Linked DNA regions of Homo sapiens. The protein of the gene in region 1 purifies or fractionates together with the protein of each later gene. This does not show direct contact. Each region holds a gene or a part of one and is shown in the gene's direction. Other genes may lie near its edges. The genes, in order: ZNFX1, DRC1, CSDE1, MIEF1 and DROSHA.

Region 1 (5,976 bases):
GAGACAGGGTTTCACCACATTCGCCAGGCTGGTCTTGAACTCCTGACCTCAGGTGACCCGCCCACCTCGGCTCTCCAAAGTGCTGGGATTATAGGCATGAGCCACCGTGCCCAGCCCTTTGATTTTTAAAATTCTATACAAGTCATGTTAAATGTTCCAGTTGCCCAAGGAGATGCCAGTTCACAGCCTCTGAACTTTTTTTTTTTTTAACAATATGATGTTTCTTTTTTAATTTTTTTTTTAACTTTTAAGTTCAGGGGTACGTGTGCAGGTTTGTTACGTAGGTAAACTTGTGTCATGAGGCCAAGCGCGCAGTGGCTCACGCCTGTAATCCCAGCACTTTGGGAGGCCGAGGCAGGCGGATCACGAGGTCAGGAGATTGAGACCATCCTGGCTAACACGCTGAAACCCCGTCTCTACTAAAAAAATAAAAAAATTAGCCGGGCATGGTGGCGGGCGCCTGTAGTCCCAGCTACTCAGGAGGCTGAGGCAGGAGAATGGTGTGAACCTGGGAGGCAGAGCTTGCAGTGAGCCGAGATCGTGCCACTGCACTCCAGCCTGGGCGACAGAGCAAGACTGTCTCAAAAAAAAAAAAAAAAACTTGTGTCATGGCGGTTTGTTGTACATCACCTAGATATTAAGCCTAGTACTCATCAGTTATTTTTCCTGCTCCTCTCCCTCCTCCCATCCTCCACCCTTCAATAGGCCCCAGTGTGTTGATCCCCTCTATGTGACCATGTGTTCTCATCATTTAACTTATAAGTGAGAACATGCAGTATTTGGTTTTCTGTTCTTGTGTTAGTTTGCTAAAGATAATGCCCTCAAACTCCATTCAGGTCCTCGCAAAGGACATGATCTCATTCTTTTTTATGGCTGCATAGTATTCCATGGTATATATGTACCACGTTTTCTTTATCCAGTCCTTCATTGATGCGCATTTAGGTTGATTAGATGTCTTTGCTGTTGTGAATAGTACAGCCTATAAACTTTAAGGGAATTACTTTTGATTCTTTTTTCTTTTGAGATAGGGTCTTGAGCCCAGGCTGGAGGGCAGTGGCATAATCATAGCTCACTGCAGCCTCGGCCTCCTGGGCTCAAGCAGTCCTCCCACCTCAGCCTCCTGGGTAACTGGGATTATATGTGCATGCCATCACACCCAGCTTTTTTGAGACAGAATCTTGCTTTTGTCACCCAGGCCGGAGTGTAGTGGCACAATCTCCACTCACTGCAACCTCTGCCTCCCGGGTTCAAGCAGTTCTTCTGCCTCAACCTCCTGAGTAGCTGGGACTACAGGCATGCACCACTATGCCTGGCTAATTTTTGTAGTTTTAATAAAGACAGGGTTTCACCATGTTGGCCAGGCTGGTCTCAAACTCGTGACCTCAGGTGATCCGCCTGCCTCAGCCTCCCAAAGTGTTGGGATTACAGGCGCAAGCCACCACGCCCAGTCTTTTTTTTTTCTCTCTTTTTAAAGACATAGGGTCTCACCGTATTGCCCAGGCTGGTCTTGAATTTCTGGGCTCAGGCAGTCTTCCTGCCTTGGCCTTCCAAATTGCTGGGATTACAGGCATGAGCTACCATGCCCCAATCTGCTTTTGATTCTTTGAGGAGACCCAGCCTTCACATTGGTTGTCATAGAATCCTCACAAATGATCATTCTTCTTTCCTTAGGATAGTGAATGGATTTGCTTCCAGCACTGGAAGCATTCCATGATGCTGGAGTGGCTAGGTCTTGGTGTCGGTTCTTTCACGCAAAGTGTTTCTCCAGCAGGACCTGAGAATACAGGTAAGAAGTGCATGTCTTCCTAGAATCAAATCTTAACGTAGAATATAGTAAATACCAGAACAGTGAGACTTAAAAATAATTCCCAGAATAAATAAAGAGCTATGAGTCAATCAGAGAAAGACAAATAGCTTAATATAAGGAAAAGAGATAAAATACTTTTTTTTTTTTTTTTTGAGATGGAGTTTCACTCTTGTTGCCCAGGCTGGAGTGCAGTGGTGTGATCTCGGCTCACTGCAACCTCCACCTTCCAGGTTCAAGCGATTCTCCTCTCCTGCCTTAGCCTCCCAAGTAGCTGGCATTACAGGCAAGTGCCACCACGCGCAGCTAATGAGATAAAAGACTTTTAACAGGCACATCACAAAATAGGAAATTGTTCAATAGATATATGAAAAGTGCTCATTAAAAACTAGAGGAATTAAAACCACAATGAGATAACTATTACTTACACACCAGTTTGGCAACAATTAAAGTTTGATATAACCCCATGTTGATGAGAATTTGAAGCAATGGAAACTCTGATGCACTGCTGCTGGGGATATTTAAATTTACATAACCACTTTATCATAGCAGAAAATCAGAAAGAACTCAAATGTTCATCAACATTTCTTCAATGGATGGATCAATTAAGTCAACTCAGATAATGAAATACTGTACAACAGTGAAAAGGAATGAAACACAGCATATACAGTAACACATATGAATCTCAAAAACATGCTGAATGAAAAAGGCAAGTTAGCCGGGCATAGTGGCCCATGCATGTAATCCCAGCACTTTGCAAGTGCAAGGCAGGAGGATCGTTTCAGCCCAGAAGTTGGAGACCAGCCTGGGCAACATAATGAGACCCTGTCTTTACTAAAAAAAAAAAGGAAAAAGTTTAGCTGGGTGTGGTGGTGCGTGCCTGTAGTCCCAGCTACTTAGGTGGCTGAGGCGAGAGGATGGCTTGAGCTCAGGAGGTTGAGGCTGCAGTGAGCCATGACTGCAATGCTGCACTACAGCCTGAGTGACAGACATAGTCTCAAAAAAAAAAAAGGCAAGTTATGGAAACATATATACTAGACAATGTGTTACTTAGATACAGTATAAATGTGGTAACATTATTATCTTTTAAAAAGGAAATGAGTAATATAAAATTCGGGTTAGGAAGGCTAACAAAGGTCTTCAAAAAATTTGTCAGTTTTCTACTTAAATTGGGTGGAAGGTACTTGGGTATTCATTTTATATATTTTTATTATCCTTTATATTACATATTTACATTGTATGCCCTCCATTGTATATGTATTTGGTATAAGTAAAACCTTTATTTATTTATTGTGTATTTATTTTATTTATTTATTTATTTATTTATTTTTTTTTGAGACTGAGTCTCACAGTCTCACTCTGTCCACCAGGCTGCAGTGCAATGGTGTGATCTCGGCTCACTGCAACCTCTGCCTCCTAGGTTCGAGCAATTCTCCTGCCTCAGCTTCCCAAGTAGCTGGGATTACAGGCACACTCACCACACCCAGCTTATTTTGTATTTTTAGTAAAGATGGGGTTTCCCCATGTTGGCCAGGCTGGTCTTGAGCTCCTGACCTCAGGTGATCTGCCCACCTCGGCCTCCCAGAGTGCTGGGATTACAGGCATGAGCCACCACGCCCAGCCTTATTTATTTATTTTTGAGATGGAGTCTCACTCTGTTGCCCAGGCTGGAGTGCAATGGCACGATCTCGGCTCACTGCAACTTCCACCTCCTGGGTTCAAGTGATTCTCCTGCCTCAGCCTCCCAGGTAGCTAGAAATACAGGCATGCGCCACCACACTTGGCTAATTTTTGTATTTTTAGTAAAGACAGAGTTTCACCGTGTTGGCCAGGCTGGTCTCGAACTCCTGACGTCAGGTGATCCACCCACCTCAGCCTCCCAGAGTGCTGGGATACAGGCATAAGCCCCACGCACAGCCAAAACCTTTCTTTAAAAGGCATATATTCGTATGATTTTTTAACGTAAAACGTAACAAAAAGTATATAAGGAGACCTTAAGCCTTTCCTAACTCTCCTCTCATTCCTTTTAGTTTCTCTTCTCAAAAATAATCACATAGGGCTGGGTGCAGTGGCTCACACCTGTAATCCCAGCACTTTGGGAGGCCGAGGCAGGCCTGAGGTCGGGAGTTCGAGACCAGCCTGACCAACATGGAGAAACCCTGTCTCTACTAAAAATACAAAATTAGCTGGGCGTGGTGGTGCATGCCTGTAATGCCAACTACTCGGGAGGCTGAGGCAGGAGAATCGCTTGAACCCGGGAGGTGGAGGTTGTGGTGAGCCAAGATTGTGCCATTGCACTCCAGCCTGGGCAACGAGTGAAACTCCGTCTCAAAAAAAAAAAAAAAATCACATAAACCCTTGATAATGTCTTCATGCATCTGAGCTCTTGCAGGTGCCGTCTTCTGTCCCTTAGCTTCAAGAGTTTCCATCTCTGGCCAGGCACGGTGGCTCACGCCTGTAATCCCAGCACTTTGGGAAGCCAAGGCGGGCAGATCACGAGGTCAGGAGTTCGAGACCAGCCTGACCAACATGGTGAAACCCCATCTCTACTAAAAATACAAAATTAGCCTACAAAATTAGCCAGGCGTGGTGGTGGGTGCATGTAATCCCAGCTACTCAGGAGGCTGAGGCCGGAGAATCACTTGAACCCAGGAGGCAGAGGTTGCAATGAGCCAAGATCGCACCACCGCACTCCACCCTGGGCAAAAGAGCGAGATTCCATATCAAAAAAAAAAAAAAAAAGAGTTTTCATCTCTCTCCTGCCTGTTTCTCTCTCTTAGCCCAGGCAGAAGGGGATGAGGAGGAAGAAGGGGAGGAGGAGAGTTCGCTGATAGAGATCGCAGAGGAAGCTGACCTGATTCAAGCAGACCGGGTGATTGAGGAGGAAGAGGTGGTGAGGCCCCAGCGGCGGAAGAAGGAAGAGAGTGGAGCAGACCAGGAGTTGGCTAAAATGCTTCTGGCCATGAGGCTAGACCATTGTGGCACTGGGACAGCAGCTGGACAGGAGCAAGCCACAGGAGAGTGGCAGGTAAACTCACTTCCTTGGGTTGAAACAGGCCTGAGAGTGTTCTGACCGCTTGTTTTCCCCCACTTCTGATACAGTATATTCACTTCACCATTACAATTAGCTAAGTACCTGTATTACAGCCTACCCCTGGTATGAGATGGCTTTAGTGATTCCCAAGGATATAAATACGATGGTTCTTCAGAGGGCCTCTGGCAAGAAATGCCAACTTAGAAAGACAGGAAGCAGGTAGCCAAGTGCTTCTGTAGAACTTGTGGAAGAATGTAGCACATATGAGTCAGGTCAAACACGGTCTCAGTACTTAATGCCTTCAGGAGTGTTGTTTTCTCTATTTCAAATGAGTTTGTGAACATGTACTAAGATTTTAGAGGATTAAAGTAAGCAATGAAGCGAGACCTCCAGGCTGGATGGAATATTCCTCCTTCATTCAGCCTGGAATTTGACACTTCTCTTAAAGCCAGAATTGTATGAATGCCCAGGTGTCTTCATGTAGCCTTCCCTCTGCTCCTTTTGGTGGAGCCTAGTAGTCCTCACTGTTTACCATGCATAACTATGATGATCGAGGATTAGATATTCAAAATAAGAATTTGTAAACCTTACCAATGATTTGAGAACTTTCAAGGGCAACTTTGGATGCAGTTTTCATCTGAGTGCTGGCTTTGCACCTGATCTAGTTCAGTTCAGTATCACTATATGTGGTGAGCGGAGTCATGATCTCAATTCTTAGAAGCACAGATTCAGCATCTCTCCCAGGAGGCATCAGGAAAGGTTGATTTGTTTCATTTTGAAGCAGCGGGAAGATCTTTATTTAGTGACATCTGTCTGACTTGCGAGCCTTCTAAAGGCTCATAGCCTCAGACTCAGTGACGGCCAGAAGAGAGCACTTTCTCATAAACAGTGCTTTCCACCACTTGTTAAAGGTACTGTGTTGATACGATGGCAGTAGGACCGTTTTAGCAGGCACTGTGCCAAGTCCTGTGTGAAGCACCAGTTGCTAGGCACTGGTTGTACAGCATTCAACAAGAAAGTACCACCCCCATGACTTTCATGGCATGCATTTTAGGAACAAGAAACAGGCTATGGTCAAAGATGTTTAATGATAACTAGTGCTAGTACTAGTATAAATGCTTTCCACGTATTTACTCCT
Region 2 (5,976 bases), on another chromosome or scaffold:
TGATAGTGAAGAAAGCTGAGAACCCCCTTGATTTACTCTGCACTAAATCCCCAAAGACTAGGAGACTGATGGCATATCATATTCATCCGTGAGGATTTAAAAAATCCTATGGCCCTTCCAATGGAGTGACAGGACCTCTGTGGCCGAGAGACCTCAAAGTTCTTAGCCCTTAGCAGTGACAGGAGACTGGACATGTCCACTTCCTGCTACCCCCGTCCCTTTACTAATTATTATGAGGTCTTATCAAAGGCTGACCTGAAGATGACAAAAGGCCAGAAGACTCCTTGGCTTACTTCGTCCGACCACCCGGCACCCTCCTCCTCATGTTTATGGTTCCAACCTGACAACAACCCTGGACCACAGAGACCTCTTCCTGGACGACTGCCAACTTCAGGCCAGTTTGGACCGGTTCCCTGAGACTGCACAGATCCTGGACTTGTGCCCTAAGCATCACCTTTTTGCATTTATGACCCAATTGTAGTACATTTAAATGTTAAATCTCCACCCCAAAGTGAACATGAGTAGCATATTGTTGTATGTTCCGTGCACATGTAAGCCTAATGCACGTGCGTAATGAGTTTTCTCCGTAAATATTCACAACCTTCTCCTATATCCTGTAGAATATGCGTTTCCTACCTCCTCACCTAGCAGAAATATCTGCCTTATTTTCTCCCCTTCAAAGCCTGCTTCTCAGTCTCAGTTGAAAGCTTGCTTCCTGCCTGCAGGTTGTGTCCTTTAGAAATAAAGTTCTCTTTTGATTTTGTGGATTCTGACTCTTTTTCAGTTGACATCTAGAAGTGGAGGTGACAAAGGGAACCAAAATAAGGACAACCGATTGGAAAATTAATAGGTAGATGCCTAGAACCTTTCTCTCTCTTTGCACAGAAGATTGGAGGTTTGGAGAAAGTCAAGCGGAGGATCTAGGGCTTGGGGGATGCTAGACAGAGGCGAGGCAAGGATACTTCATGGAAAATAAGGGGATTCAGGGAAAATATGCACAGTGGATGCCAGGACCTTCCAGCTCTCCTCTCACCAGTTCCTGGAATGGTGGCACTTCAGCCTTCATATTCCAGGCAGGAGGCTGGAGAAGTTTCTCTGTGGAATCCGACCAGCCCCAAAAGAAGGATTTAAAGACACTAATGTTGGTCTGGGCACAGTGGCTCATGCCTGTAATCCAGCACTTTGGGAGGCCAAGAGGGGTGGATAACCTGAGGTCTGGAGTTTGAGACCAGCCTGGCCAACATGGTAAAACCCCGTCTCTACTAAAAATATGAAAATTAGCGGCGTGGTGGTGCATGCCTGTAATCCCAGCTACTTGGGAGGCTGAGGCACGAGAATTGCTTGAACCTGGGAGGCGGAGGTTGCAGTGAGCCGAGATCGTGCCACTACACTCCAGCCTGGGTGACAGAGGGAGACTCTGTCTCAAAAATAAAATAAAATAAAATAAAAATAATAAAGACACTAACATCGGGTTTGCTCACAAAGCAGCCCGATTAAATCAGCCCACGCTGACATGCACAGTTGTTAAGCCACACCCTTGTACTCACAGCTCCCGTCAGCTTTAAAAAAAATTTATTTTTATTATTTATTTATTTATTTTTTAAGCAACAGAGTCTCACTCCATTGCCCAGGCTGGAGTGCAGTGGTTTGATCATAGCTTAGTATAACCTTGAATCCTGGGCTCAAGCAGTCCTCCTGCCTCAGCCTCCTGAGTGTCTGGCACTACAGGTGCAGGCCACCATGCCCGGCTAATTTTTTTTTTTTTTTTAGAGATGGAGTCCTGCTATGTTGCCCAGGCTAGTCTTAAACTCCTGGGTCAAGTGGTCCTCCTGCCCTGGCCTCCCATAGTGCTGGGATTACAGGCATGAGCCACTGTGCTCAGCCCCATCAGCTTGTTTTTAATGTTTAAATTTTTATTTGTCACACTATTAAAATTTATTTTTTCTGCTTTATCCTGACACCATATTACAAGCTTCCAAATGGCTAGGGACTTAGATTGAAATGATACTAATTTGTCCTTATTTTCTCTAAATTCTTGGATTCTGTATAATCAGGTGTGTTTATGTACACATAACCAAAACAAACCATCCTTTATGTAGTTTTTTTTTAAAGGCAGCTGTTTCTTTAACAACAACTAGGTAGCTACTGTGAAGATGGTGACATGTAAAATTGGTAGTATTAGTATCCTTTTCCCAAGTTGTCATGGAAGTTACCATTATACTTATAGCTTTAGGTCTTTGGTACATCTCAGACAAGATAGGCAAGAATTTGGAGAACATTTTGAAAATAAGAGCAATAGACACATTCAGCAACAACTAGAATAATGGAACTCAAAGTTCTAAAATTACATGATATAAGTGAAAACAGCTTTAAAAGCTACCTCATAAGAGTTGTTTTATCATTAGCTTGATTTTTTCCACGTAAAACAGTGTTTATTTATTTTTAACCCATGTTTTAATTTTTTCATAGGCTTTTTAGTTCTTGTCATGAGTCAGTAACTGAGGATTTCTAGGCATCTGAGGAAAGTCTTTAACATGAATGGTAGATATGAAAATTAACAAAGAGAAAAAAGCACCTAAGAGGACATTAAGACTATATGTGGGGAGAAAAAAACAAGAATACCACAAAAAGATGATCATTCAGATCCTCAGAGAGAGTTTTGAAGTCTTTGGGGGAAAAAGAGGGAAAAAAAAGATCCTCAAAGAAAAAAGAGATGATATGGCAACCACGAAACAAGAATAGAATGCTACTAAAAGGAGTGTTCAGAGAAAAAAAATAGAGCTCTTAGAAATAAAAAAATTATAGAAATAGAAAACATTAGAAGGGTTGGAAAATAAAGATGATGAAATCACCTAGAAAATAGAGCGCAAAGAAAAAAGGTAGAAACTTATAGAGAAAATATTATTATTATTATTATTATTATTATTATTATTATTAATTTTGATACGGAGTTTCACTCTTGTTGCCCAGGCTGGAGTGCAATGGCATGATCTCGGCTCACTGCAACCTCTGCCTCCTGGGTTCAAGCAATTCTCCTGCCTTGGCCTCCCAAATAGCTGGGATTACAGACACCTGCCACTATGCCCGGCTAATTTTTGTATTTTTAGTAGAGACAGGGTTTCACCATGTTGGCCAGGCTGGTCTCGAACTCTTTACCTCAGGTGATCCACCCGCCTTGGCCTCCCAAAGTGCTGGGATTACAGGCATGAGCCACTGCACCCAGCCAGAGAAAAATATTTTTTTTTAATTAGAAGATATTATCACTTTTCTAGATCCAGAAAGAATGGAGCAGGGAGCATATTATCATGGAAAGAATTCAAGAACATGTCTCAGACCTGAAGATCATGAGGTTCCTGATTGAAATGTCTAGCACAATGGATGAAAATAGACCCACCCTAAGGCACACCATTGAGAAAGTTCAGAACACTGAGAATAAAGAGAAAGGGCCTACGAGCTTCCAGAGTGAAACAAAACAAAACACAACAAAACAAAACAAAACAAAAACATGGTCACATATAAAAAACAAAAATATGGTCACATACAAAGAAAGGCATAAAGACAGAATGACTTCAGGTTTCTCAGTTAGCAACACTGGAAGGAAGCAGTGAAGGAAAGTTATTTCCAACCTAGAACTCTAAACCCAGGTAGACAATCAACCAAGTTCCAATTTTTTTAAATCCTGAGAATTGGTCAGGAAGTAGAGTATTCAAGATGGCAGCTCCCATTTAGACCACAAACATGGGGCGGTGGTGAGGAAACAGCTTCCCAAAAGAGGACTCAGCCCCCAGGAGGGAGGGAGCTCAAATCTGAATAGACAGAAGTCTGAAACAGTTGCTTTGGAGAACATACTAGTTCTACACTGCTGAACAACAGAAATACAGTATCAGCCACATATGTCATTTCAAGTTTTCTAGTAGCCACATTGAAAGTGGTAAAAACAGAACAGGTGAAATTAATAATTTATTTAACCCAATATATAAAAGTATTATTTTAATATGCAATCAGTGTAAATCATACTGATGAGATATATTGCAAATATTTTTTGTTCAAAGTCTTCAAAATCCATCTAGAGTGTATTTTACACTCATAGCGCATTTCAATTTGCACCAGGCACATTTCAAGTGCTTTATAGCCACATGTGGTTATTGGCTACCATATTGGACAGTACAGTGCTAAGCAGTAAAAAATGATGCATAAAAGACAATGATGAGATTTAAGTTAATAGTAGTTAATAAGAATTTATAGCATATCTGCAGACTGGCCAACATGGTGAAACCCCATCTTTACTAGAAATACAAAAGTTAGCTGGGTGTGGTGGTGCGTGTTTGTCGTCCCAGCTACTCGGGAGACTGAGTCAGCAGAATTACTTGAACCTGGGTGGCGGAGGTTGCAGTGAGCCGAGATGGCTCCACTGCACTGCAGCCTGGGGACAGAGCAAGACTCTGTCTTAAAAAAAAAAAAAATTATAGCATATCTGGACTGCATGGTTTTTTTGTTGTTGTTGTTGTTTGTTTGTTTCTGAAGCACTGATCTTTGATCCAGAAAGCACTTGGAAGGGATTATTTAAATAGAGTTGGTCATTAATTGGTGGTCAAAGTAGAAAGTCAAGGGAATTTTTTGAGTGGTGATGGGAACATGATAAGCCTGGCAATAGCTGAAGACCTGAGTAAAATGGAACAATTAGTTTACTTGGTAAGAAAACAAAGAGCATGTTCAATAAGAATAGGGAAGCCAATGAAATGACAAGAAAAAAACAAGGGGTTTTGGTTAGATTGGGAGTGGAGGATGGTAACTCAATTCTGTATCTCCAAAATAGTGTTACACTAGGTAGGATTGTCCTGGACTTTGAACAAAGGGAGTAGAGATGGAAGTCAGAGTTAGAAAAAGTCAAGAAAGAATGAGATAAAGAGATCTGCTAGGCTGAGGCGGGAGAATTGCTGGAACCCAGGAGGCAGAGGTTGCAGTGAGCCGAGATCGCGCCATTGCACTCCAGCCTGGGCAACAAGAGCGAAACTCCGTCTCAAAAAACGAAATGAAACCAAACAAAAAAACAAACCTGCTGTGTCATGTTGAGGTTTCATTTTTCCTAAGGCAGTACTGGTAGCCCTTATGGACACTGTGTGCCAGAGGAGAGAGCAGGGTCTTGATGATGTAAGTGGCGTGGGGGTTGGTGAGGTCACTCCCCCATGCCTCCCCTGAAGAAGTCTATAATCTGGAACTTTATCTCGCCACCGCCCCTTTAGTCTCATTTTCTGATTCACACACACAGACAAGCACACACACATGCACTATTTAGAAAATTCATGCAATACAAAAATGTAGAAAATAGAACTTCTCAGTAATTTAATTCCTGTTCTTTAAGTAATTGCTGTTATTCGTTTGTCATATATACTTCCAGAAAATGTCCTGTGCACATATAAGCCTGTTTTTTGTTTTTGTTTTTGTTTTTCAGACAGAGTCTCGCTCTCCCGCCCAGGCTGGAGTGCAGTGGCGCTATCTCGGCTCGGCTCACTGCAAGCTCCGCCTCCCGGGTTCACGCCATTCTCCTGCCTCAGCCTCCCAAGTAGCTGGGACTACAGGCGCCCACCACCACGCCCGGCTAATTTTTTGTATTTTTAGTAGAGACGGGGTTTCACCGTGTTAGCCAGGGTAGTCTCGATCTCCTGACCTCGCGATCCACCCGCCTCGGCCTCCCAAAGTGCTGGGATTACAAGCGTGAGCCATCGCGCCCAGCCAAGCCTGTTTTAAAAAGAAAATGTGTATTATAGTCTACATATTTTTCTAAAACTGGCTCCCTTTACTTAACTGCTGTGGACATCTTTCCCTGCTGTTAGGTATTACATCATTCTTTTTGTAGGCTACAAAGTATTTCTGAAATATTGTTTTCTCTTAATTAGTCAGCTACTAATATGTATGTAGAATGTTTCCATGGTCTTACGAGTATTGTCAGTGCTACAATCATCTTTCTCGTGCATA
Region 3 (5,976 bases), on another chromosome or scaffold:
TGAGTAATTTTCATTTTGAGTAACTAAAGGCAAACATTCTTGATATTGCATTGAGGAGCACTATAATACATACCTTGGTTTTCTTTTGGTACTAACCAATAATGGATATCCTTGGTGTGGGTAAGGAGGGGCTTTATATACTTCAGTAGGGATATACCTGAGTCATAAAACTTAGATAAATATTTGGCCTTCTTTTTGTTTCGTTTTAGCCCTGGGACTAAAATAAAAGAGAAGGTAATAGTTTGGTTTTGCAGCTGTTCTGGATGTTTACCATCGAGATGATTATTTATAGCAGCTGAGTTGAAAACTAAAGTATTTGAGGCACAGAAGATAGGTTTTCTTTTTTTGTAAGTACTGACTTAAGTGTGACCTTTAGCGAGTGTGGGTGAAAATCTGGTAAAGTCCTAGCAAATCAAAATTGAAAGCGTGAAAGCTGACGTGCAGTCTGGCTTTACCCTCTACCCTTATTTTCCCTTCTCCCCACCTGAAGACACATCGTGTAGGGCCATCGATTTTTGTTTTAAACAAACAAAATGCTAAAATATCAAATTATGCTGGAGCATTCATAACATGAAATTTAGTGTTCCAGTGTTTTTCATTGTACAGTTCAGTGGCACTAAGTCTATTGAAACTGTTGTGAGAGCCATACTTTCGACAAGGTAGTTAAAACATGGAAATTTTGGAACGATGTTCTTTTGGACAGATTTTTGAGGAGTTGAATTTCAGGACTGTATTGCAAAATGAGATAAAAATCTTGATCTTGTTAAGTAAACACAAAGAATTGATGTGCCTTCTTCTTAGCTTTGTCCTTGCAGAAAACAGAAGAGGAAGCACTTTGAGATCTATTTTGTAAGCTTTAATAGCTAGACTGTTGTAAGTGGTGAAACTACTATGGTGAGAGTGACTTGCTGTTAAATCCCTTCTGCCCAGTCAGGATTTTAAAAAGTCCTTTGTTTTGATATTAGAATGTTTTCCACTTGCATGTGTGGGTACCTAGTTAAAAACAACACAAAACTTTTTAATATTTTAATGTCCTTTTATGCTGAGGTAAAACAGTGTGTGGCTGAAAATTATCAGTTTCCCCTATGTTGCACATGTAAGCTATCCGTTGATTTGCAGCTACAGCCGGTACATAACCAGTTATTTGCACTTCTTTTTCTCCAATTTATTAACAACAAGCTTCTATGCTAGATACTGCCTACTTTTATTAGTGAAAATCTTTGCTCAAGACCCTTACATTTACTTCCTGTTGCTAATTGGCACAATAGTGCTTTTTTAGACCCCTGCTCAGTTTATACCTACTCTGTGGAACATGGTAGCCGCCAGCCACGTGTGGCTGTTGTGCACTTGAAGTGTGACTAGTTTGAATTGAAATGTGCTGTGATTGTATAATAACATTGGATTTCAAGGAATGTAACAGTGTCAATTTTTTTACATTGATTGCCTGTAGAGAATAACATTTTGGATATAATTGGTTAAATAAGACGTTTAATTAAAATTCCTTCTGTTTCTTTTGACTGTAATATGGTTACTAGAATTATAATTACACTGTATTTCTGTTGGAAACTGCTGGTCTGTGGTGTTTTCTGATGTGTCTAGAATGTTTCTTCAGCATCTTCCCACACTGCCATTTGTCCTGCTTAAAACTATTAGGTTTCTGGGTGTATATATAAGCAGTTAAGTGATAGATAATTTTAAATATCTCAGTAGCTGTTTAGATAATTAATCCAGCACAGTTGTTACTACACAGATACAAAAAGATAGTTGTGTCAGTTTGATTTTTTATTTTTACTCAACAGATGACTTAGGTTGGTTAATTATCTAGAGTTTATCGTTTACCTTAGATCCTAAAGTAAAAATGAATTAAGACCTATTAAGCACTTCAGTTATAAAATGTGGTGCTCAATGAAATGTCAGGCAATAGAGAAACTTTTCAGTCCTATGCTACCTATTTGGGTCTTTGTTTTTTCCTGCCTAAAAGAAGATACTGCCTAAAGGAAGTGGGTTAGGTGAGCAGACTTTTGTAGACTGGCTTAGCCTTTCATTAACTTTTCCCGAAGTGAGTGCTGCACATACTTTCAAAATAATAAACTAGGTAGTGTGATACATTTTAGATGGATTACTTACCACATAAATGTGTTAGTTTAACCTCTTCATTTAGTGCCGACTATGTCATGGCTTATGCTAGGCCTTTGAGGTAAAACAGCCGAGGAAGACATGAAATAAAACAGGTGGTGGCCAGGTGCAGTGGCTCACGCCTGTAATCCCAGCACTTTGGGGGGCTGAGGCAGGTGGGTCACTTGAGGTCAGGAGTTCGAGACCAGCCTGACCAACATGGTGAAACCCCATCTGTGCTAAAAATACAAAAATTAGCCAGCCAGGCCTGGTGGTACACGCCTGTAGTCCCAGCTACTGGGGAGGCTGAGGCAGGAGAATCGCTTGAACCCGGGAGGTGGAGATTGCAGTGATTAAGTAATAATACTATTTCCATGCTGAGCAAAGGGAAAAGGAGTTGATTACTTAGCACACAGTATGATTCTCAGATACACATTTAAATTGTTCCCTAGTGTTTTTATTGGTACCCTATGGTGGGTTTGTGGGGGCGATTGTTTTGAGTCAGCGTCTTACTCTGTCGCCCAGGCAAGAGTGCAGTGGCACAGTCATAGCTCACTGCAGCCTCAAACTCCTGGATTCAAGTGATCCTCCTGCCTCAGCTTCCCGAGTAGCTGGGACTACAGGTGCATGCCACCACACCCAGTGAATTTATTTTTTATTTCTAAAATTTTTTGTAGAGACAGCATCTCACCATGTTGCCCAGGCTGGTCTCAGACAATCCTCCCACCTTGGCCTGCCACAGTGCTGGGGATTACAAGCGAGAGCCACCACCCCAGCCCAATACCCAGTGTTTCATGCAACTTAAGTTTCAAGCTTTTAGGGGGATGGAGGAGATGCACTTGTGTTCCTAGGGTTAAGGCAAAAGAGGTGGTTAGTAGCACCAATTAATGTTAATCCGGGCATGAGTGGATAGCTATTTATATTAAACTGCCTGACCAATACCTTTAAGTTCTTCAGTAAGTGTTAATTTAATTGAAAAACATTTAGTTAACTATAGAAGCTGTGAAGATGTTAATTCGGCCAGTAAATTATTCATGACTGTTGGTGGGTTCGTTTGAGCTTTAATAGCTCCTAATAGACCTCATTAGTGCCTAAGAATGGCCCTGCAGTACTCCAGAGTTTCAGTTCCAGAAATCTCTTTTTTTGTGTTACTGAATCTTGGACTTGACAGTTCTTAATGTGATACGACAACCTGGAATGGGTTAATCCAGTTCAAGTGTTTCAAGATAACTTGTTTTCTCCATGTTGAGTTCTTTGGGTTCATTAATACACCTAAAGCATTAAGATAAAACCAATATACACAGTCTGTATTTTTTAAAGAAGAGATTATTTCTTGATTGGATAATTAAAACTATATAATTAAAGGTGGTATAACTGTTTACACTTGAATTGTGGCATAACTGTTTACACTTGAATTGTGGCGTCCTTTTGCTTATTAAGGATTAACTACCTTTTTCCTTTGGTTGTATATGGCAGCACTGGATTAGGTGCGAAAGGAGGCTGTGATAAAGAAATTTGAGTTTACCTCTCAGAAATTTGAAATAGAATTGGAGGAACAAGATACATAAAAACATGAAGTAAACAAAGTACAGAAATTGCTTGGTATCACTTGCTGCAAATTGCTTGGTGCAGGCAGTGGATGTTACTGCCCCATTCATTAGTAGGAATTAATGAATGAGTCTGCTGGAATGGTCAAGAAAGGCTTTTTTGTCACCTTGAAGATCACAACATAGTATTTTTTTGTGGGAAGACCCATATAAGCAAAGGTGGCTAGAATTCAGGAATCTCCCAAGAGTTGTGTTTAAGGATTAGGCGAGGTAATGGACTTCTGGTAGAACTGGAACACAGTAGAGAGTAAGGATGGAAGGTAGAATAGAGACACCTGGAATAGTAGTTCTTAATCCTGGCTGGAAGTCAGAAACACTTGGAGCAGGGGTTGGGGGGAGATAACAAGGCCTGGCACCTAACCTAGTGTAGTTAAATTTAGAATCTTTGTACGGGACTCAGGCTTTGATTTTGTTGGTTTTTGTTTGTTTGTTTGTTTAAGGTTGCTGGGGGTGGGTGGATAGCCAGGATTAAAAACTTCCCATCTAGAATGGTGGAAAAATAACTGAAGATGTTTGACAGGGGAGATGAGAAATGAAATTGGAGAGTTTTTGTTTTGTTTTGTTTTTTGAGACAAGGTTCTGATCTGTCTCCCAGGCTGTAGTGCTGTGTCACTATCTTGTTCTCTGCAGCCTTGACTTCCCAGTCCTAAGTAGCTGAGGCTCCAGGCGTATACCACCATGCCTGGCTAATTTTTTGTATTTTTAGTAGAGATGGGGTTTCTCCACGTTGCCCAGGCTGGTCTGGAGCTCCTGGGCTCAAGCAGACCTCCTGCCAAGGCCTCCCAAAGTGCTGGGATTACAGGCGTGAGCCAACTCACCTGGCCAAAATTCAAGTTTTTGATAGTCTGGTGGTGGTATGTGACAGAAAATGGAAAGTGTGCACACTGGAAGTTGGCGGATATATTAGACACCTGAGCTAAAATATGTCACTTAGTAGGATAAGAGATGAATACAAAAGATATAGCGAGGGAAATACTAACACAACTTGCAACATTGGGTATGGTGATGGAGAGGGGAAGAATCAAGATAGTTAAAGAAGTGGCCCTACCTCAAACCAGTTGTATTACTCTGAGTGGAGGCTGGGCATAGGTTTGTTTTTGTTTTTTTTTTTTTAAAGCTTCCCAAGTATTTGAGCACCATTACCCTGAGACATATATCTAGTCTGGGTAATAGGAGAATGATCTAAATAAAGTTGAAAGATCAGACAAGTGTATGTAACATTTGATATTTGAAGGAACATGGGATGTTAGAGAATAGAAAATGGCCAGATCAGCTGTTATTGAGTTTTTATTTTACATGTGAGGAAAGTGAAACTTAGAGAGATTAAATAACTTGTTCATGGTATTTACTAGTACCAGTGATTGCGATTAGGCTCTTCTGGTCTGAGCTATTTAATCAGCTCTGACCTCTCACCTGATAATCATTCTTCTGATGTTTTCAAATATCCATTTCTCAGCACGTACACCTTTTTCTTATCTCTGTAGAAATAATTTTCGTTAACACCATTTTGTAACTTTGGAGTCAGTGCAAAATTGTTGTTTATTTTATAGCTAATATAAAGCAGAAATGTGATTTTTACTGATAAATAAATTTTATTTCTCTTCTATAGACATTTCTCATCTATTTACTGCAGCAGTGCAAATGAGATTTCTGTTTGCTTACTAAGTCATCTCCTTTAGGATTTCAAGACTTAATACCACTTTCATCAAAAACTAAGGCACTGTTTCCTGTTACATCACGTTGAAATGCTTCATAATCGGGCTCCGCTACACCTGTCACACTACATATCCTATTTCACTTCAGCCCAGCTCTCTGTTCTAGCCAGGCTAGCCTGTTGATTTTCCTCTGAAACAACAAGCCACACATGTTGCCACAGGCATTCATGCAGAAGACTTCACTTGATGCTGGGCTTAGAAAATCATAGAATGCATGGTCGCTGCTCTGAAGAAAGAATTTAGTGGCATATTCTCGCTTGACTTATGTGCTGTTTCATGCCTAGAATACTCAGCTATTTTCTTTCTCCTAGAATTCTGCCTGATTTTCCAGGTTCACTTCAAATTCCACTTATTTAAAAGCCTTGGTTGCTTTGATGGACATGCAGTTGTGGATAAACAATAAATAATATTTCTAGATAGTCTGTGACATAATAGATACCTAGATACTAATTGAGCAAAATAATTTTTGGCATTTTTGTCCTATACTCTGTTTTTTTTTTCCATGTTTACATCTTGTCTTTTCAGCAAGATTGTCTATG
Region 4 (5,976 bases), on another chromosome or scaffold:
TCCTCCCTTCTCAGCCTCCTGAGTAGCTGGGACGCCAGGCATGTACCAATGTGCTCAGCTAATTTTTTATTTATTTATTTTTTTTGTAGAGACGGTCTTGCTATGTTGCCCAGGCTGCTTTCAAACTCTTAGCCTCAAGCGATCCTCCCACCCTTGCCTCCCAAAGCTTTGGGATTATAGGTTCAAACAGCTCTGCCTGTCCAGAAACTGCACTTTGTAGTCTGGAAACTTAAGTCTGATGTGGCCAGCATGGTACCCCTGTAAGGCAAATAGCCAGAGTTGAGGCTGGGCCTGGTCTGGAAGGACGTTGACTCCAAGTTGAGATTGTAATGTATATCTTCTTATGTGGGGACCATCACAGCTCTGTAAACAGAGGAATGACATAGCCACATTTGTATCGTAGAGGGAGCATACCAGTGGCAGTGTGAAGAATAAATTGATGAGAGATACTAGAGGCAGTGGATGTAGCCAGATCAGATTGAGGGACCGAGGGGTGGGGGTGGCCACATATAAACACAGTGTGTACAGCAGTGGGACTTGGTGATCAGTTGGCTGAGGCAGGAGGAGGAGAGAGAAAGATGAAGAGTAACTGGGTGTAAGGCCTGCCAGCTGGGTGGAGGGTGCTGCTTTTAACTGGGGGAGGGAAAGTAGGAAGAGAGCCTTATGTAATGACTTTTGGTTCTTCTCAGCCACTTAGGATTGGCATATCTGCCTTTGGCAGTACAGGGCCAGGGGTGGGGTGATGCCCATGGGAGCCTGTCTGCACAGGGAGGGTTGGCTAGCGGATCTAGGAGGGAATTAGGGCGTTCCTTGAAATCTTTGTGTTCCTAATATATTTTGGCTGTGAGTTGGGCTACACGCTGCTATCACTACCCCCTCAAAAAAACCAAGAAACAAAACGCCGTAGAGTTAATACTTCATTCCCACAACATATACTCCCTATGCATCAAACACTGCACACCCTGGGGATGCAGCAGTGAATGAGCCCAAATGTCCCCCAGAAGCATATGGTCTGGGGGTTAATGGAGTGGAGATGGGAACAAGGTGTGGAGCAAGTACCTAGGACCCCTGTAGATTAGTTCTCCGCACCGCGTGATCTCAGGGTTCAAATCTTGGTCACATACTTTACTGACACAGTGACCTTGGGTCAGTTACAGAAACTACTCAGTTTCTTCATCCTTTAAATTTGGGATAATATTACTGATCTCATGGGATTGTTGTTGTGAGGATTGAGGGAATTAATAATAAGTGTAAAATTGCCAGCACATAATACACACTCAATATCTGCTACCTAGTCTCGTACATACTCAAGCAAGATAGGTTTATAAAAAGGCCTATGGCTTTTTCAATTAAAATAAGTTGGAACTTTCACACTTCTGTGCTGTCATCCTAGGAAGCCGCAAGGCCTCCATTATTCATCATCCTTAACTATATTAGGGTGATGAGCATTTCTGTTCCCATTTTTGTATCTAGCGAGACAGGTTAAATAACTTGCCTGAAATATTGGCAGAGCTGAAATTCTCCATCCCTAGTTCTGCCCACCAGGTCTGTGTTCCTTCTTTGTTTTTTATTTTAACCATCTTAACCATTTTAAAGTGTACAGTTCAGTAGTAGTAAGTATATTCACATTGTTGGGTAACAGAGCCCCAGAACCCTTTTCATCTGGCACATCTGAAACTCTGTACCCATTAAGCAATGGGGTTCCTTCATGACAGTCCCGATTGGAGGTGGAGTTCTTACCTGCTAGTAGGCTGTAAGCTTATGCAGCAGAACCTGAGTGGAGAGCGTGTCATGGAGAAGCAGTTTAAACTGGAACAAGTTGAATTAACTTTTCAAGTAAGGTCCGTGTCTGTCTGTTGAGCTTGTGGATGCCGTCTTCTGTTCCAGGTCACCAGGTCTGTGATGTCAGTCCGTCCTTGGATGGTGGGCGGGGGGTGCCTATTGCACTACAGTAGGAAAAGCCTTTTTTTCTTGAGATGGAGTCTTGCTCTGTCACCCAGGCTGGAGTGCAGTGGGTGCAATCTTGGCTCACTGCAACCTCTGCCTCCCGACTTCAAGCGATTCTCCTGCCTCGGCCTCCCGAGTAGCTGGGACTACAGGCGCCTGCCACCACACCTGGCTAATTTTTTGTGTTTTTAGTAGAGACAGAGGTTCACCGTGTTAGCCAGGATGGTCTCGATCTCCTGACCTCGTGATCTGCCCACCTTGGCCTCCCAAAGTGTTGGGATTACAGGCGTGAGCCACCGTACCCGGCCGAAAAGGCTTAACAAGCTGGCCCAACTTAATAGTTTTGATCTCAGCTGTTGGCTCACGCCTGTAATCCCAGCACTTTGAGAGGCCAGGGTGGGCAGATCACCTGAAGTCAGGAGTTCGAGACCAGCCTGGCCAACATGGTGAAACCCTGTCTCTACTGAAAATACAAAAAATTAGCAGGGTGTGGTGGCTCATGCCTGTAATCCCAGCTACTAGGGAGGCTGAAGCAGGAGAATCACTTGAACCTGGGAGGTGGAGGTTGCAGTGAGCCGGGATTGCCCCACTATACTCCAGCCTGGGTGACAGAGTGATACTCAGTCTCAAAAAAAAAGAAAAAATAGTTTTGATCTCAAGTCCAAGATGGCATCACTGCGAATTTTCAAGGCCGTTTTAGAGCAGTCTCAAAAGGTGCACTGTCACTCAGAGGACAGTCTGGGTTGCTGACTGACTTCTGGAAGCTGACCTTTGTCCTGTGGATGGAAATCTTAAAAGACTAGAGGAGAACTCATTTGTGGAGCACTTTTACAGTTTATAGACCATCCACTGCAATACAGTTTATACCGTTCACATACAGGATTGCAGTGAATGGTTTTTCCTCACTACAACCCTGTGATTTGGTCCCACGCGGGGACCATTATCCCCTTTTCGTAGCTGAGGTGTTAAGTAACTCATTTGAGGTCACCCAGCTAATAAGTCAGGGCTCAAGGCAAGTTCTGTATCTCAGGATTTCTGACTCTAAAACCCACGCTCTGTTCTGTCATCTGTAGCACCACCTTGCTCTCACCAGTCATCAGAAGGGCACCAAGGACTAAAATGGTCCAGGGAGGCTGCTTCTGCCCTGAGTGAGGAGGTGCCCTTCTGGCCCTGCTGCATCACACTCAAGGATCATTTAGAGGGCACATGTGTCCAGTGGCTCTCCCTATTGTAAATATTTCAGTAAAGAGTTAAAACAAGAGACATTGTTATGTGTGGGGAAATGTATAGTGTTCTGCTTTTCTCCTGATTGGGTTATCTTGCCTCTGCTAAGTTTGGTTTGTCCCGTCTCTATCTCAGTGGCCACTGGAGAGAGGGTGTCTGCTGTTCTTCCCTGATTCCACCTGTAAATACAAACGTTATCTCTTCTCCCTGGCTTTGCTCTGTGCATTTGAGGTGGGAATGTACTCGGTTTGGCGAAATAGTCTTTCATGTCCCTAAACCTGAAGCCTCTATTGACTGTAAATGGTAGAGAAAAGGAAAGTACCCCCAAGGTGTGAACTCTAGTTAGGGAAAAAAATATTTTTGGGCTTGACAGTGACTCTTAGTTAACTCAATTACTGGAATAATAGAGTCAGAAATATTTCTTTGTTTTTCAGGGAGGTAGAGGCAGGAGCGTAAGATGTGGAAGCTAGAAATATCCACTTGTAACACGGTATTAGAAGGAATGTTATTTTACATGGAAGATAATCCTCAGTGATCCTTTTTTTTTTTTCTTCAAGACGGAGTCTTGCTCTGTCACCCAGGCTGGAGTGCAATGGTGATTCTCCTGCCTTGGCCTCCCGAGTAGCTGGGATTACAGGCATGCACCATCATGCCTGGCTAATTTTTTGTATTTTTAGTAGAGATGGGGTTTCACTATGTTGGCCAGGCTGGTCTTGAACTTCCGACCTCGTGATCCACCCACCTTGGCCTCCCAAAGTGCTGGGATTACAGGTGTGAGCCACCGCGCCCGGCTGATCCTGTCTCTTGATGTCCTCCCATTCTGGGACGCTAAATGGTATCCGACTTTGTTTTCCCTTATGTCATTCCTGGTGTGAAGGACACGGGATATTATAGAGGAGAGTGGCAGCATGCTGAGTGGTATTCCGATCTGAATCACACTGTCATCCTTTATCCGGCTCAGGCCCAGGGTTCTAACTCCACAGGAATGGGCTTATCTGGGGACTGCTGCTGCTGCAGTCAGGAAGACTCCACTGTAGTCGGGAGCAGCACTGGCCTGAGCACTGCACTGGAGGCCAGCCTCTTCGCTGTGGTGCCCAAGTACTTCTTTCAGGTGAACACATTTTTAGTTCCTCTTCCAGGTGTAATCGAGCAGATGGGTGTTTTGTTTTCCAGTTAGCAGTCGAGTCTGCAGTGTCCTTTGTGTTTTTTATCTCCCGGTATACCAGTCTCACCTAAGCTTTTATAGTCCCCGCTGCGCACTTCTCTCAAGAAACAAAGCATTTGTCAAGTAGGAGGGTCCATGGAGGGACCTTTCTCACATATGGACGTGTAGTTTCAGTTCCGTGTGCAGGATGTTTGGTACATGTTGTTTTGTGTTTTGTTTGCAGAAAGTAGATAGAATAAGGGCCGATTTGATTTGGGTAAGGGTGAGCATGGTACAGTAGAAAAAGCGTCATACAAGGAGTGGGGAGTCCTGAGTTCTGGAGATGACTGTGTCGTTTTGTTTTCGTTTTTGAGACGGAGTTTAGCTCTTGTTACCCAGGCTAGAGTGCAATCGTGTGATCTCGGCTCACTGCAACCTCCGCCTTCCGGGTTCAAGGGATTCTCCTGTCTCAGCCTCCTGAGAAGCTGGGATTACAGGCATGCGCTGTCACATCTGGCTAATTTTATATTTTTAGTAGTGACGGGGTTTCTCCATGTTGGCCAGGCTTGTCTTGAACTCCTGATCTCAGGTGATCCGCCTGCCTCGGCCTCCCAAAGTGCTGGGATTACAGGCGTGAGTCACCGTGCCCGGCCCATTTTGTTTTTTTATTTTTATTTTTAAGAGATGGGGTCTCACTCTGTCACTGAGGCTAGAGTGCAGTGGCGTGATCATAGCTCACTGTAGCCTCAAACTCCTGGGCTCAAGCATTCCTCCTGCCTCAGCCTCCTAAGTAGATAGGACTACAGGCATGTGCCACCATGCTCAATTTATTTTTATCTTTTACTTTTGGAGATGGGGGTCTTGCCATGTTGCTCAGGTTGGTCTTGAACTTCTGGCCACAAGCGATCTTCCCACCTCAGCCTCCCGGGTAGCTAGGATTATAGGCATGAGCCACTGCGCCTGTACCATTTCTTTTCTCTGAGACCTGACACATCACCTCCCTATGTTGAGAACCTCTGTGTGAGGTGATGTGATGGCATTAGATGAGCTCCAAGGTCCCGCTCAGATCTAACCTTCCACAAAGTAGTGGCCAAAGGACGAAGAAATGACCTGCATTATAACCCCTGTGATGGGGTAGAGAGACCTGCTTTATAACCTCTGTGAAGGGGTAGAGAGACCTGCATTATAACCCCTGTGAAGGGGTAGAGACCTGCATTATAACCCCTGTGAAGGGGTAGAGACCTGCTTTATAACCCCTGTGAAGGGGTAGAGACCTGCATTATAACCCCTGTGAAGGGGTAGAGACCTGCATTATAACATTGTGAAGGGGTAGAGACCTGCATTTTAACATTGTAAAGGGGCAGAGAGAGGGCTGTTTTGCATGGTGGGGTACTTCATTGTAATACAAAAAAGGACTGACACTGAGCTTAATGCTTTCTTAATCTCACTAGCTTGGGGAAAGTTTTCCTACAATACCCAAGATCAGCCCCTCCTCCTTGCATCCTGATCTATCATGGGACATTGTAGCTCCCTCCAGACCCTAAAGCATGCAGTGCTGGAGGCAAGAAGATTTGGGTTGCTGGAACTCACAGAGTACCCTGTACTTGTTGGGGTTTGGCTTGTTAGGGGAGGGAGGTTCTTGGGGTCCCAGTACTTATGGC
Region 5 (5,976 bases), on another chromosome or scaffold:
CTTGACTTGTGGATCCCTTCCTCTGTCTTCGAAGCCAGCAATGGTGGTCGAGTCCTTCTCGTGTTTTGAATATCTCTTGCCTCTTTTTCTGTTGTATCTCTGACCCCTGTTGGCAAAGGTTCCCTGATTTTAAGGATTCCTGTTCTAAGATTGGGTCCACCCAGCTGCAAATCCTTTTTGCCATGTAAGTTAACATATATATTTAATTTCTGGGGATTAGGACATGGACATCTTTGGGAGGGGCTGGTGGCTCAGCCTACCTTCCCAGAGATCAGGAGTTCTCTTCTCCAAATCTTACAGAATCCTGCTTCTATTAGGAAGAAGGGAAGAATGGCTGCCATAGGTGTTATTATTCTTAAAACAATAAAGATGAAGACACTGAAGTTCAGGGAGTTTAAACAGGCAGGGCTGGTTGTTTTTTATTACATCGTTATGAGTATATTAAAACTCCAGTGTAGGAGGAAGACTGATAAACTCAAAAGGCTGACATTTGCCTTTGAGTTTTGTCGTCTGTGTGGTGCAGAGAAGGTGGTGAGAATGTCAAAGCTATACCGGCATCGCCACTCCCAACAATGAGATGGGGCCTGAATTATCCCCTCTTCTGGGTACCAGATTTTATGATTTGCCTTAATTTTACATTTGACAGGTCTGGTTTTTACATTTTAAGGCTACTAAGTCAGAGTGTGGAGATGTAAAGTGATTTTCAACCTGGAAATTGAGTGAGGAAAAGTGGAAAATTTTCTCTAGGAATCTGTTGCAGAGTCCCGTGTTTGTGGTATGTGTTTGTGTGTGTGTGAGAGAGAGTGTGTGCATGTTTATGTCCTCGTGTTTAAGGCATGAGAGTGTGTGTGTGTGTGTGTGCGTGTGTGTGAGAGAGAGAGAGAGGGGATATATAGGATATTTCTTATTGCTCGATGGATTGATATAGGAGAAGATAGGTTATCAGTGATTTTCAGTAGGAAGTGTACATTCCCTATGAGGGTATTTGATGTCAGTTGTCATGATTCTCTGAGGGTCATGATTTTTTAAAAAATGTCATATTAATAGGGCATAGATGAACTGTTCTAATGTTTCTTTTCTGTTTTTTTTTTTTTAGATGAGGTCTCTCTATGTCACCCAGGCTAGAGTATAGTGGCACAGTCATAGTCATAGCTCACTGCATCCTCCAACTCTTGGGCTCAAACAGTTCTCCTGCCTTAGCCTCCCAGGTAGCACAGGCACACACCACCTGGCTAATTTTTTTCTTTTTCATAGAGGTGGGGTCTTGCTATGTTGCCCAGGCTGGTCTTGAACTCCTGGCCTCGAGCAATCCTCCTGCCTCTGCCTCCCAAAGTTGCTAGGATTACAGGCGTGAGCCAGCACGCCTGGCCTGTTCTAATGTTTCTGAATGTTGGCAAGGCACATTTACCTGAAGACTGTGTCAGCGATAAGTGTGTGTTTGATTCAGAGTATGATTGCCAGTACTTGAGCATTTTGTTTTTAAATGTTTGTTAAATTTAGGGTTGAAAAATAGCATCTTGCTGTTAAAAATGCTTTGATTACCTGTGAGATCTTACATATCTTTGATATGATCGTTATTGATATAGTTCCTAATATTGATCCTTTATTTTTAAAAGGGAGATTCTACAGTGGTTGGAACGAGTAGGCTTCGTGACTTATATGACAAATTTGAGGAGGAGTTGGGGAGCAGGCAAGAAAAGGCCAAAGCTGCTCGGCCTCCGTGGGAACCTCCAAAGACGAAGCTCGATGAAGATTTAGGTGAGTCAGAGTCACTAACTAGCCTGAGACCCTTGCGATTATAGCTTCATTCCTAAATTTTGGGGAAATACCCTTGAGAGTCCCACATTGAGATTTCTTCTTTTTCATTTTATTTTTCTTAATTACAGTCAGTAAGATACATAGCAGTAGAACTTCCTTCTTTTTGATCGTATTTTTCCTTAGTTCATTTGGCAGAATACAGCAGCGATCTCATTTGCAAGGCATGCTAACAAGGGTGCCCCTTGGAGAGTTGTCCAGTCAGAAGAGTTCAGCATCTTTCCGAGAGCAGGAGCCCATGCCCCCTGCCTCTCATGAGGACAGGTGTCCTTCCTTGGCCCTCTCCTTTGCCAGGTGCGCCTGGTTTGATGAGGGAAACAGCGACTGTACCCCAGCTCTGTTTGAAGGTTTCTCTCCACTTGTGTAGACAGTTTGCATAGCTTTTTCATAAGGTGGTCTATTTTTTCATGTGTATGTTCTGAGGTTCCAAGTAGGTTGTGAGATCTTTGAGAATGGAAATTGCTTTTTATCACTTTGTATCCTTAGCCCCTAACAGAATGCCATGCACAGATGAGACATTCAGTGTGCATTTAGCTACATGTTCTCTCTAGCTCTTATCTGCCCACCTCCATTACATCCCACACGCTGAGAGGCAGTTATCCATACTGGGCAAAGACACCTGAGTTGGGAGTTGGATGGCTTGGGTTTGAATCCCTGCTCTACCACCTACTTGATATGTGACCTTGGGCCACAGGTTAATCTCCTTAGATTTTTCCCATTTGTAAAATAGGGATGACAGTAGACAGTAGCATCTATCTCATGCAGTACATGTAAATACAACTCCATGTTGGATTTCATTATGCTACTACTATGTTAATCTCTTATAGGATTAATTTATTTTAAAAATTAATTATTTTTCTTTTTGTGGAGATGGAATCTCACTATGTAGGATTAATCTAACTTCTAGGTCTGTTTTTTTTTTTTTTCAAATTGTGGTAAAATATAAGTAATACAAAATTTACCATCTTAACTATTTTTAAGCGTACAGTTCAATAGGGTTCAACATGACCTTGTTTGCAACCAGTCTCCAGAACTGTTTTCCTTTTATAAAACTGAAACTCTGGACCTGTTAAGGAATAACTCCCCAGACCCCAGTTCCCCCGTTCCCTTATTACTACTATGCTACTTTCTTCCTCTATGAATTTGACTCTCAGGCATCTCATATATGTGGAATCATGTAGTATTTGTCTTTTTGTGACTGGCATATTTCAGTTAGCATAAGTCTGTGTCTGTTTTTATTCAGTCACTTTAAGGACTAACACCTTCTCTTGCTGTTATTGAGGGAAAAGAAATGTCAAGTCTTTGGTCTTGCATTCCCAGCCTTCGCTGTGGCATTCCCAGCACTCCCAGCCCCTAACCTCCCAGTGTTTTTCCGTGTGGCCCGCGCTCTAGCTAGTCCACTGTGTTCTTAGCTCCACGCTTTTGCCTACGATGCTCCCTCTTCATTCCTTTCTTCTTTTCTCCTCCTTATCATGCTTCTCCCATCCTGTTGCAGTGCCTGGGTCACATGTGCTCCTTCTTTGAAATTATCACCAGCCTTTCTGGATCCCAGTGAAACTGCCCTTTTATGGATCATTACATAGCTTAAGTGTTAAACTACGTACTACTACTATGGTTTTTCATTTTATCTGACATTGCTCATCAAGTCTTACTTTCTCTCTAAAGATCTTTATTTTCTTTGCTTCCCCAACTAGATTGTGACTTAGCATTATGGGCTATATTTTTTTTTTATGGTGTTGCTTAGTAGAGTATTTGGTGTAGAGTAGGCCTTTAAGTATTTTCTAGAAGAATAAAGAACTCTTCTTACCTTTAGAGGTTTAGGTCATTTGGAAGCCTCCACAAAAACCAGTTTGTCAGCCGGGTGCGGTGGCTCATGCCTATAATCCCAGCACTTTAGGAGGCCGAGACGGGTGTTTCACCTGAGGTCAGGAGTTCGAGACCAGCCTGGTCAACATGGCAAAATCCTGTCTCTACTAAAAACACAAAAAATAGCTGGGTGTGGTGGCAGGCGCCTGTAATCCCAGCTACTCGGGAGGCTAAGGCAGGAGAATCACTTGAACTCGGGAGGTGGAGTTTGCAGTGAGCTGAGATCGCGCACTGCACTCCAGCCTGGGTGACAGAGCGAGACTCCAACTCAGGGAAAAAAAAAAACCAGTTTGTTAATTCCATCAATTTCTGTATTTTTCTCCCAACCCCTGTTAGAGAGTTCCAGTGAATCCGAGTGTGAGTCTGATGAGGACAGCACCTGTTCTAGCAGCTCAGACTCTGAAGTTTTTGACGTTATTGCAGAAATCAAACGCAAAAAGGCCCACCCTGACCGACTTCATGATGAACTTTGGTACAACGATCCAGGCCAGGTGCGTGTTTTTATGCCCTTGCTGTGAAGGTTGCAAACCCAGACATAACGGTTATTGCTCTGGGCTCAGAAGATACATGTTGCCTAGTATTGAAACTGAATTTTACTGTCAGGGTTTTGTCCTTCAGAGCTATTTCTTTTCAGCTTCAGGTTAGTTCCAAAGCATAAGCACCAGAGCAGCTGTCCCTTGAATCATTTTTGATGATGTTTGTAAATTCCATGTTGGGGAGAGGAGTAATGGCCCTGCCTCATTAAATTGCAGTAGATGGAAGGAGACACATGGTAGGATGAGGAGAGAGAACTTGGAGGTCTTTTTAGAAGTAGTTCACCTGGAAGGTATCTTGCTGCAAAATAGTAAATAAGTCCTATAAGATTTCTTTTTTTTAGTTGGTAACAGTCACAAGTTCTCTTCCTTGTTAAGCATGTTTGAGCTAAAAACATAATAGGTGGACATAATTATTTTTATTTTTAATTACTGTCTTAATATGAAGTAATACATAATAAAATTAGCATTGTTAAAAAAGATTTGTGTCACACAGATATATAATACATACAAAAATTATATCTTTAATGCATGTAAAGTTAGGAAGCTAAGGCATATCTGTAAAAAGATAATTTAAAATTTATATTTTGTGAGTAAATTTATAACATTCTATATTAATTAAAATGCTTTTCTCCTGGTTCTTGTTAGATGACAGCTATCCATCTTTTTTTTATAGAACGTCTGGCAGAAATGTATTTTGTGTGTTCCTTTTACTCTTTGGAATTGAGCAGAAATGTTTGCAGAACTGCCAATGCATTTTAAAACTTGGTTTTCTTTTTAAACAGCTTTGTTGAGTTATAATTTACATATGATACAATTGTACTTCAAATTTATAATCCAGCATTTTTTAGTATATTCATGGGGTTGCACAACTATCCCTACAATTGAATTTTAGAACATTTTTTGTCCCCCGTAAAATAAACTTCCTCCATATATGGGTTTTTTTGTTTTTTTGTTTTTTTTGAGACCTGGTCTCACACTGTTGCCCCGGCTGGAGTGCACTGGCGCAATAACGGCTCACTGGAACCTTGACTTCCCAGGCCAAACCTGCTTCAGCCTCCCAAGTATCTAGGACTATAGGGGCGTCCCACTATGCCTGGCTAGTTTTTTTTTTTTTTTTGAGACAGAGTTTCGCTCTTATTGCCTAGGCTTGAGTGCAATGGCGATCTTGGCTCACTGCAACCTCTGCCTCCTGGGTTCAAGTGATTCTCCTGCCTCAGCCTCCTGAGTAGCTGGGAGTATAGGCATGCGCCTCCACGCCTGGCCAATTTTGTATTTTTAGTAGAGATAGGGTTTCTCCATGTTGATCAGGCTGGTCTCGAACTCCCGACCTCAGGTGATCCACCTGGCTCAGCCTTCCAAAGTGCTGGGATTACAGGTGTGAGCCACTGCGCCTGGCCTGCCTAGGTAGTTTTAAAAAATTATTTGTAGAGATGAGGTCTCGCTATGTTGCCCAGGCTGGTCTCAAACTCCTAGGCTCAAGCAGTCCTCCTGCCTCAGCCTCCCAAAGTGTTGGGATTACGGGCATGAGCCACTGCGCCTGGCCCTCTAGTCTTTTTACTTGACTGTTGTTTCCTGTTTCGCAAGAAGCCTCTACACTGATTTCCGTGGATACCTGTTTCTATCAGAAATTCAACAGTGCTTTGTAAACAGTCTTTCTAATGCTGTTTAGTGTTATTGGTTTTGTGTCCTCTGTATAGTTGAGCCTTGTGAAGGGCTGAATATGTAGGATCCCAGACCTTGGTAAAAGGCAAGCATGTAG

Evidence for each region.
Region 2: the proteins of ZNFX1 (region 1) and DRC1 purify together in Homo sapiens (affinity purification with mass spectrometry, with the first as the bait; one large-scale study listed by BioGRID). This does not show direct contact.
Region 3: the proteins of ZNFX1 (region 1) and CSDE1 purify together in Homo sapiens (affinity purification with mass spectrometry; one large-scale study listed by BioGRID and IntAct). This does not show direct contact.
Region 4: the proteins of ZNFX1 (region 1) and MIEF1 purify together in Homo sapiens (affinity purification with mass spectrometry; one large-scale study listed by BioGRID and IntAct). This does not show direct contact.
Region 5: the proteins of ZNFX1 (region 1) and DROSHA purify together in Homo sapiens (affinity purification with mass spectrometry; one large-scale study listed by BioGRID and IntAct). This does not show direct contact.

What each region holds. Positions count from the first base shown.
Region 1 is NC_000020.11:49,256,273-49,262,248, reverse strand, and holds part of ZNFX1 (NFX1-type zinc finger-containing protein 1), read left to right. Parts: intron 1-1,671; coding exon 1,672-1,786; intron 1,787-4,584; coding exon 4,585-4,832; intron 4,833-5,976.
Region 2 is NC_000002.12:26,407,347-26,413,322, forward strand, and holds part of DRC1 (dynein regulatory complex protein 1), read left to right. Parts: intron 1-5,976. UniProt on the Homo sapiens protein: Component of the nexin-dynein regulatory complex (N-DRC) a key regulator of ciliary/flagellar motility which maintains the alignment and integrity of the distal axoneme and regulates microtubule sliding in motile axonemes.
Region 3 is NC_000001.11:114,750,553-114,756,528, reverse strand, and holds part of CSDE1 (cold shock domain-containing protein E1), read left to right. Parts: intron 1-5,976. UniProt on the Homo sapiens protein: RNA-binding protein involved in translationally coupled mRNA turnover.
Region 4 is NC_000022.11:39,505,290-39,511,265, forward strand, and holds part of MIEF1 (mitochondrial dynamics protein MIEF1), read left to right. Parts: intron 1-4,132; exon of another isoform or gene 4,133-4,282; intron 4,283-5,976. UniProt on the Homo sapiens protein: Mitochondrial outer membrane protein which regulates mitochondrial fission/fusion dynamics.
Region 5 is NC_000005.10:31,506,817-31,512,792, reverse strand, and holds part of DROSHA (ribonuclease 3), read left to right. Parts: intron 1-1,616; coding exon 1,617-1,758; intron 1,759-4,017; coding exon 4,018-4,172; intron 4,173-5,976. UniProt on the Homo sapiens protein: Ribonuclease III double-stranded (ds) RNA-specific endoribonuclease that is involved in the initial step of microRNA (miRNA) biogenesis.